Homo sapiens: one gene and its partner. The protein of the gene in region 1 interacts with the protein of each later gene in a pairwise test. Each region holds a gene or a part of one and is shown in the gene's direction. Other genes may lie near its edges.

Region 1 (4,125 bases):
AGCAGAGATGAGACCTGCACGTGCTCTTTGTGGCAGAGCTGGCCTTATACGCACTCCTGGGTGAATAAACAGGGAGACATCTCCTAAGAACAAACGCTTCTCAGAAACAGTATAGTCTAAACTCATACTGAAGGGAGAATAAGCCAGCCACGGGCTGGAGAGACCCCCGCCTACATTACTAAGTAACAGGAAAGGCTAAGATTTGGAGCCTTCCTCCGGTTCAGATCTATCCCGGGAGTAATGGAAGATGCTTGCCTGTTGACAATTTTTTTTTATTAAAAATCCCACCCAGGAGGTCTCTCCTGATAGGAGGGGACCATCCTATCCTCTAAGGCAAATTCCAGCTTCTTCCCTGAAATGTACATCCGCTACTGAGCCTCAGAATGCTATTTGTTCCACCTACTTCCACAGTTTTAAGGTCTTCAGCAACAGGAGAAGACAGCAGGAAAACTTGAAGTGCAGTTGGCTCCCGCTGAGATGTCACTAGCAGAAAAAGGGAACACAAGCAAAAGGCAAGATTCTAAAGACAGAGGTGACACCTTCTGCTCCAAACATTTGGAGGGTCACCTTTCCAGAAGTCAGACTCGAAGTCCTGAATTCTGGCATGAATGAGTTCTCCTACGTGTAGGGGGTGGCCTGGAAAGATCTTAATTTGTAAGTTGACAGGTAAGGGGCCTTCAGTTGGAGAATCTTGTCACCTGATTCTCAAAGCCAAAAATATCTTACTGTCTGAAACATGAGGTCTTGAGTAGTTCAACTTGACCCATGCAGACATAATTTGAGAGACGCCAAGGAGGATTAGGAAAAAATGTATCTGGTCTTACTCAACTCTGAACATTGCATGAGTCAAACGTTTTCCTAGCTCTCTGTTTGTGTGATGGGTCCACTCTGATGGATTCTTGGCGATGTATCTTTCATGACCAAAATTCAAAAGAGGCCATTCGAAGTGGCTCCCACAAAAGCTGCTGCAGAGCCCCAGACATTCAGAAGCCAATAGTGAAGGGGCCAAAAGCCATCCCTCAATGTTCACTGACACTTTGCGAGCCTTGGGGCAAGTTGGCGATGTCAAAACATGTTTTTAGGGCGTGTTTGCCAACATACAGGTCTTGGGCAGGATTGCAGACCTCTGCAGATGGTACCAAAGTAAAGGGGGAGATGGTAGCTGAATAATCTCTTATCATCCCTAAAGTGCAAAGTGAAATGAGAGTGGATTTTTCCTTCCAAATCCACTTGGAGTGAGTCCCGAAAGACTCACTTTTGCGGCAATCCCCACAATGACATCACTGGAGCGGAGGTTATATAATTTAAAGCAACCACATCTCCACAGCACTTCCCAGAAGAGAAAACTCCTCCAAAAGCAGCTCTCACTATCAGAAAACCCAACTACAGTTGTGAACGCCTTCATTTTCTGCCTGAGTAAGTAAATGACCACCTTTTTTTTTTCTTTTATGAGAGTACAATATGAGAGGAAATCTGTGTCTCTTAGAAAAACAAAAAACTTCCTTTTACACCTACCTATTGGCAAAATTTTCCACTTCTGTGAGGGTACTTTTTAAAAATAATTCTAAATCAATTTAAGAGACTTTTATTTCATGCCTAGTTTGGGTCTTAATTGCTTTTCCAGAACAGGAGGAGGAGGGAAAGGTTTTAGAACTCGTAGGAAGGTTCCAGTAGCTCCTTATATCAAAGTCAGGTGAAACATGTCAGGGCTGAATGCAGCCACCAGAGTTCGCATGGACTGACCAGTTACAGCCTGCAAATTCTGAATCATAAAAATTAAATTAGTCTCTCTGGGATGGCTTACAAGATTTCATAAGACCAATAACTGGTTGGGTTATTCGTGGCTTGAAAGTAGCATCTTACTATGTGACCGTGCTGATGGTCTTTAACATCTGTGGCTGAATTTCCAATGCCTTTAACATCACCATGCTGTTGAAATTGGAGTTAATTTGAAGAATTAACTAATTTGTTGAAGAAAGTCACACTGTCTCATAGCCTAGGTTAAAATGTGCAGAATTCAGAAAATACCACACAGGAATTACAGAATTGCCATCTCTTGTAGACTTGCCCAGTGCCCCTTCTGAGTTCTTCAAATAGGGTCACATATTACTAACAATATCCAGAGATATTGTTTATTGAGCACCTACTATGTTCCAGGCAAATATCAGAGCTAAAGCTGAAAACTGGCAAAGGAAGATTTCTCCTCTCTAGCCAACTTTATAAACACAGACAGCAGCAGGTGAGGACAATCCCTTTAAAAATAAGCCCCATGTGAGCAGACACATGCTGTGGCTGCAGTGGCCCCAGCCACCTCCCCGTCCTGGGGATGGGGGCGGTGTCCACTGACCTAATCAGGTTCGAGCTAAAGTCCCTGCGTAGCTGGTCGTCTCTGGCTTCCTGGGCAGGGTGCAGCCTCACCCCCGTGCTGGTTTCCTAAGGCTGCTATAATTAATTATCACAAAGTGAGTGGCTTAAAACGATGCAAGTTATTATCTTACAGTTCTGGAGATCAGGAGTTCAAACTCAGTCTCGCTGAGCTAAAGTCAAGATATTGGCTTGGCTTTGTTCTCCATCCCCATGATTCAATTATCTCCCACCAAGTCCCTCACACAACACGAGAGAATTATGGGAGCTACAACTCAAGATGAGATTTGGGTGGGGACACAGCCAAACCATATCAGTGCTCAACACCCTCCCATCTCTTCTCAAACTCTCAATGCCCCAGCCCCTCCACCACAGGTCAGGACCTCGCCTCCTTTCTCCCTGAGAAATCCCAACCAATCGCCGGGGAATTCTACAGATTCCCACCTGCCAGCCTCTGTCACCATAGACCTCAGCTTCCTGGCCATCATCAGAGATAGCTAGGAGAGGGATGGTCAGGCCATGTGTGTGCACACTGCCGGGGCACCCCAATAGTCAAAAATTATTTCCCCCAAAAATTAGTATTTACAGGTAGAAAGAGAGAGGAAAGAAGGAAGGAAGGAAAGAAGGAAGGGAAGGAAGGAAGGAAGGAAAGCAGGATGGGAGGGAGGGAAGAAGGGAGGGAGGAAGGGAGGGATGGAGGAAGGAAGGAAGGAAGGAGGGAAGGAGGGTAGGGAGGGAAGGAGAGAAGGAGGGAATGAAGGGAAGGAAGGAAGGAAGGGGAAAAAATCCAACAAAATGGTTATATTATATTGATGGTGTTATAAAGTAGTTCTAGATAAAAACTATTTTCAAAAAAGTCTTTAAATATATATGCATACACCTATGAATATTAAAGCAAAAGAAAACATGTTTATGTTAATCAACTGAACATTTAAAAATAAGATAAGCAAAATAATTGTTCTTGTTGTATATTCACATGCTACAGTTTCTTGTACCTGACTGATACCCTGTCACTGGCATTTTTCACAAGAATGTATTTTCTTCAGTGGGGTCTTGTTATTTTTAATTTTTCCATATAATTGCCTGAAATCTTTTTTCCACAAATTTTACAATTAACAAATTTAAATTAGTACCTTCAATTGACTCTTCTCTTGAACCATAATATATTGAGAAAATGTTCCCTGTGCAGGTTCTGAGTGATAAGCTCTCAGCAAATTCTGCCAGGCAGAGGCTGTTCTCAAGTCCAATTCTTTGCATATGGAATTGCATAAATATTTTAGCCCAGATATTTTCACAGGTGCTGTCTTTGTGCCTTAGTTTGGAATGTAGTGGTGCGATCTTGGCTCGCCACAACCTCCGCTTCCCAGGTTCAAGCAATTCTCCTGCCTCAGCCTCCTGTGTAGCTGGGATTACAGGCGCCTGCCACCATGCCCGGCTAATTTTTGTGTTTTCAGTAGAGACAAAGTTTCACCATGTTGGCCAGGTTGGTCTTGAACTCCTGACCTCATGTGATCCACCTGCCTCAGCCTCCCAAAGTGCTGGGATTACAGGCATGAGCCACACCGTGCCCAGCCCACACGTATTTTTTTTTAACCAGATTAAACCTTTCAAATAAGTTGTACCTACTTATAAGTTTTGAATGTTTTGTCAGATTCAGATACTGCAAAAAAAAAAAAAATCATTGGCTTTCTCAATTTCATCTCATTTCATACAGAACATGAATTTATCCAATTAAAAAGATTCTTCCCACAAGCTGAAATG
Region 2 (3,500 bases), on another chromosome or scaffold:
CACAATGTTTGCAAATGAAAGCTGACATTGCCTTTTGACATGCAGGCCTGTCCATCCTCAGCTACTTATCAGGGTCAAGTTGACTTTAAATATCCTTGAGAGGGACCATGAGAAGTCAGTGTAGCCTTGCTGGATCATGGTTATTCAACCAGCTATTTCCATGGCTATAATGGAGAGGCTTGGGAGCCCAGATAAATCCCAGTTTCCTTTTCTGGGCCTCAAAGGCAAGCGCCAGACTTTATCTATGGGGACATTCTGCAACCCAAAACAGTCAGAACCCTTCTCAAAATCCTCTGGCGAAGTACCCACCTATCATCAAGCTGCTGTTGTTGGCTCTGAAGTGGTAAAGCAAATATCCACTTATATAATAAAGAGGGGAAGAGCAGAGGGAGATAAATCTCCAATTTCCAGATGTAAATGGTATCTATACATATTCACCTGTGAAAGATTAGGAAATGGAAACATTAGCTTATTTGATTTTCTTGCATCTAGTAATAAGTATTCAGTGATCTTGTGTGCCAAGCACTATCTGAAGTACCTTACATACATTTATTCATTTAATCTGTGAAGCAACTTCATGAAGTAGAAACCATTTTCATTATTTTACAGTTGAAAGGAGGCTTAGGGAAGTTATATAACTTGTCCAAGGTCACACAGTTTAAGTAGCACAGTTATGATTTGAACTCAGTGTATCAGACTCTCAAGCCTTCCATATAGCTTCCCAAAAGCAGATTACAAGAACCAGGCAAGGCACAGAATTTCACAGTAAAGCTTGTCCCTGAACATATGACCTTCAGATTAATAGTGGGACATGTAAATCATTATAGCCACAGAGAAACTTTAAAAGGAAAACAAAAAATACAAAATTAACCCTGATTTATTGGTGGCTAAGGACAGTTAGTTGCCCATGTATATTTGTGAAATGACTTATACAGGAGGCAATGCTACCATGATCTGTAAATTCTTAGATATGAACAAATATAGAATCATTTTGAATACAATAAAAATCTTTGTATTTCTAGCATCTTATAAATTACCAATGGCTTTTACATATCTTATCTCTTTTAATCCCCACAACAGCCCTGTGAGCCAGTCATTCTTGGCCTCATGTTATAGATGACAATTTTGAAGCTTAAAGAGGTTAAGTGACATACCCAAGATCACACAACTAGCAAAGCTGAGGCTCAGACTCAGGCTTTTTGACTCAAATGTGGCTTGTCTTTTACCAAACCACTTACCTCTCTACTGGGTTGTTTGGCTTTTCTCCAAAGCCAGGTAGAAGTTTTTCACATTGAGGTTTTTCAGAAATTCTTACTTAGATATTTCATCTTTCTGTAAAAGGCAGATTTATTGGCCCACAAATTTGGGGAGCCATATTCATTTTTATATTTGGCATAGCTTATGCCCAGGTCCTCTCCATAAGGGTGTACTTTTATCGAGTTAGAATTGTTGAGTTAGATTTAGATGTGTATATAGAATGTTCAAAGTAGCTTCCCACAGTCCGGTTTTCTCTTGGGGGTGAGGAGTTCCAGGCCTCCGAAGCCAAACCGTTCAGAATTGGTAGCCAAATACACCATTGACTGCAGCAGAGCAATGCAATTGCTGAACATTCCCCTTATACAAGATCAGTTTTGAATAAATGCATGGAAACACGATAAGCTAAGAGGCTCAATTTATCTTTGCTTATTAGTAGCTCTAGCCAGCATATGACCCGTAGTCTCTATGAACAACTCTTCTGATGGATTTTATATGCCTTGTGTGATGTGAAAGATGAGTAAACAAACCCTTTATTGGAAATACATGAGGTTTTGTGGGGGGAAGTAGGAAAGAATGTGTCAAATTGTGATAAGTGATACTGTGTAGAGTATTTCTGATTGAACATCCAGTAACTAACCTTTTAAGCTTCCGGTTTTTTGTTGGTAGCAGGCAGGAGAAAATAACCAGAGGAATGTGGATTGCTTGCAGCTAACCGGGACCTGTTCATCTGGTTAGTTTCTTTTCTCCCATGCTCTTGAGGAAAGGTATTACTCTTGGATTCCAGTTGGCCAAGAGGAAGGTTCAAGCTTTTTTTTTTTTTTTTTTTGAGATGGAGTTTTGCTCTTGTTGCCCAGGCTGCCGTGCAGTGGCTCAAACCAGCGAAGGCTCACTACAACCTCCGCCTCACAGGTTCAAGCGATTCTCCTGCCTCCTGAGTAGCTGGGATTACAGGTGCACACCACCATGCCCGGCTAATTTTTTTGTATTTTTAATAGAGACGGGGTTTCACCATGTTGGCTAGGCTGGTCTCGAACTCCTGACCTCAGGTGATCTGCTCGCCTTGGCCTCTCAAAGTGCTGGGATTACAGACGTGAGCCACCGTGCCTGGCCGAAGGTTCAAGCTTTTAAATCCAAATAGAATCTAGTGATTAGATTGATGCAGAAATTTAAACTGTACTTGGGCATCACTTGCTTCCATTGGCTCACCAGTGATTGTAGCTGATACAGTTATGTGACAAAAGATTCATTCATTTAGCAAACAAATCAGAGGTGCTTATTGTGTGTCAGGCACCAGACATTGATTTTTCTTTTTAGACATTGATTTTATATTAACTATTAGTTTCCATGTTACTTTACCTTGAATTGGGTCAGTAGATGAGAAATTTTCCTGGGGAGACACACTCTTCAGAAAAGGTCTAATTTAGGGAGGTGTTTTGAATAAGATTAATTTCCCAAATTTCAACAAAACTTTGTCCAAGAACATCATACAAAGTGTCTACCCTACGCTTTTATTCCAATCATCAAATCCTTTAGAGAGATTCCAAGGATTATGTTTCACTGAGACTGATTTTATTTGCTAATGCCAATTTTGGGATTCAATCAGTTTAAATTAGAAATCTGGAAGGGCCCTTCAGGATTGGAGACTAGATTGGTTTCTAGCTAGACACTCCCACCTTTGCAGTTTCAGGGTAAACTTTCTTTCCCAAGAAATAAAAGCATGTATTAAGAATGCTGCTTCTGCCAAGACTCTGTGTAGACCCAGCCACCATTGCCAGATAGTCTGAAAAAGTATAAAAAAATTAGCCGCCCCTCAGTGTGTGGTCATGAAGCAGGGCCAGGGGCACTCTTTAGGTATACAGCATAAAGTATGTCATAGATAGTAAATACTGGAGTTTAGAATCCATTTGTAAAGAACTGTCAGCTTGAGTGTATTAAGGCACAAAAGCAACTTCTGAAACACAGGCTTGATATTTGTTGCTGGGGCTCTGAATCATTTTGGAGTACCAGGACACTTAGCAATAGGTGGGATTATTTTTTCAGGGAAAATAATGGTGTTCCATTCTTAGGGTCATAGATGACTAGAAAAAGAAAGGTCCAAGGCTTAGAAGAAAGATCAGCTATAGATTGGAAATAAGCTGAAAGCCAGATATCCCTCTCACAGATTGGCACAGCTCCATGTAGAAGGTCTGCCCAGTGTGTTGAGGTGGGGCGAGAAGTTGGCATTGCTGACATTGCGCTTCTCC

Evidence for each region. The genes of interacting proteins can lie anywhere in the genome.
Region 2: the proteins of BDKRB1 (region 1) and SLC25A28 interact in a two-hybrid assay, tested with the Homo sapiens proteins (one large-scale study listed by BioGRID and IntAct).

Annotation. Positions count from the first base shown.
Region 1 is NC_000014.9:96,254,885-96,259,009, forward strand, and holds the start of BDKRB1 (B1 bradykinin receptor), read left to right. Parts: upstream 1-1,325; 5' UTR 1,326-1,416; intron 1,417-4,125. UniProt on the Homo sapiens protein: This is a receptor for bradykinin. Could be a factor in chronic pain and inflammation.
Region 2 is NC_000010.11:99,613,940-99,617,439, reverse strand, and holds part of SLC25A28 (mitoferrin-2), read left to right. Parts: intron 1-1,926; exon of another isoform or gene 1,927-1,987; intron 1,988-3,500. UniProt on the Homo sapiens protein: Mitochondrial iron transporter that mediates iron uptake. Probably required for heme synthesis of hemoproteins and Fe-S cluster assembly in non-erythroid cells.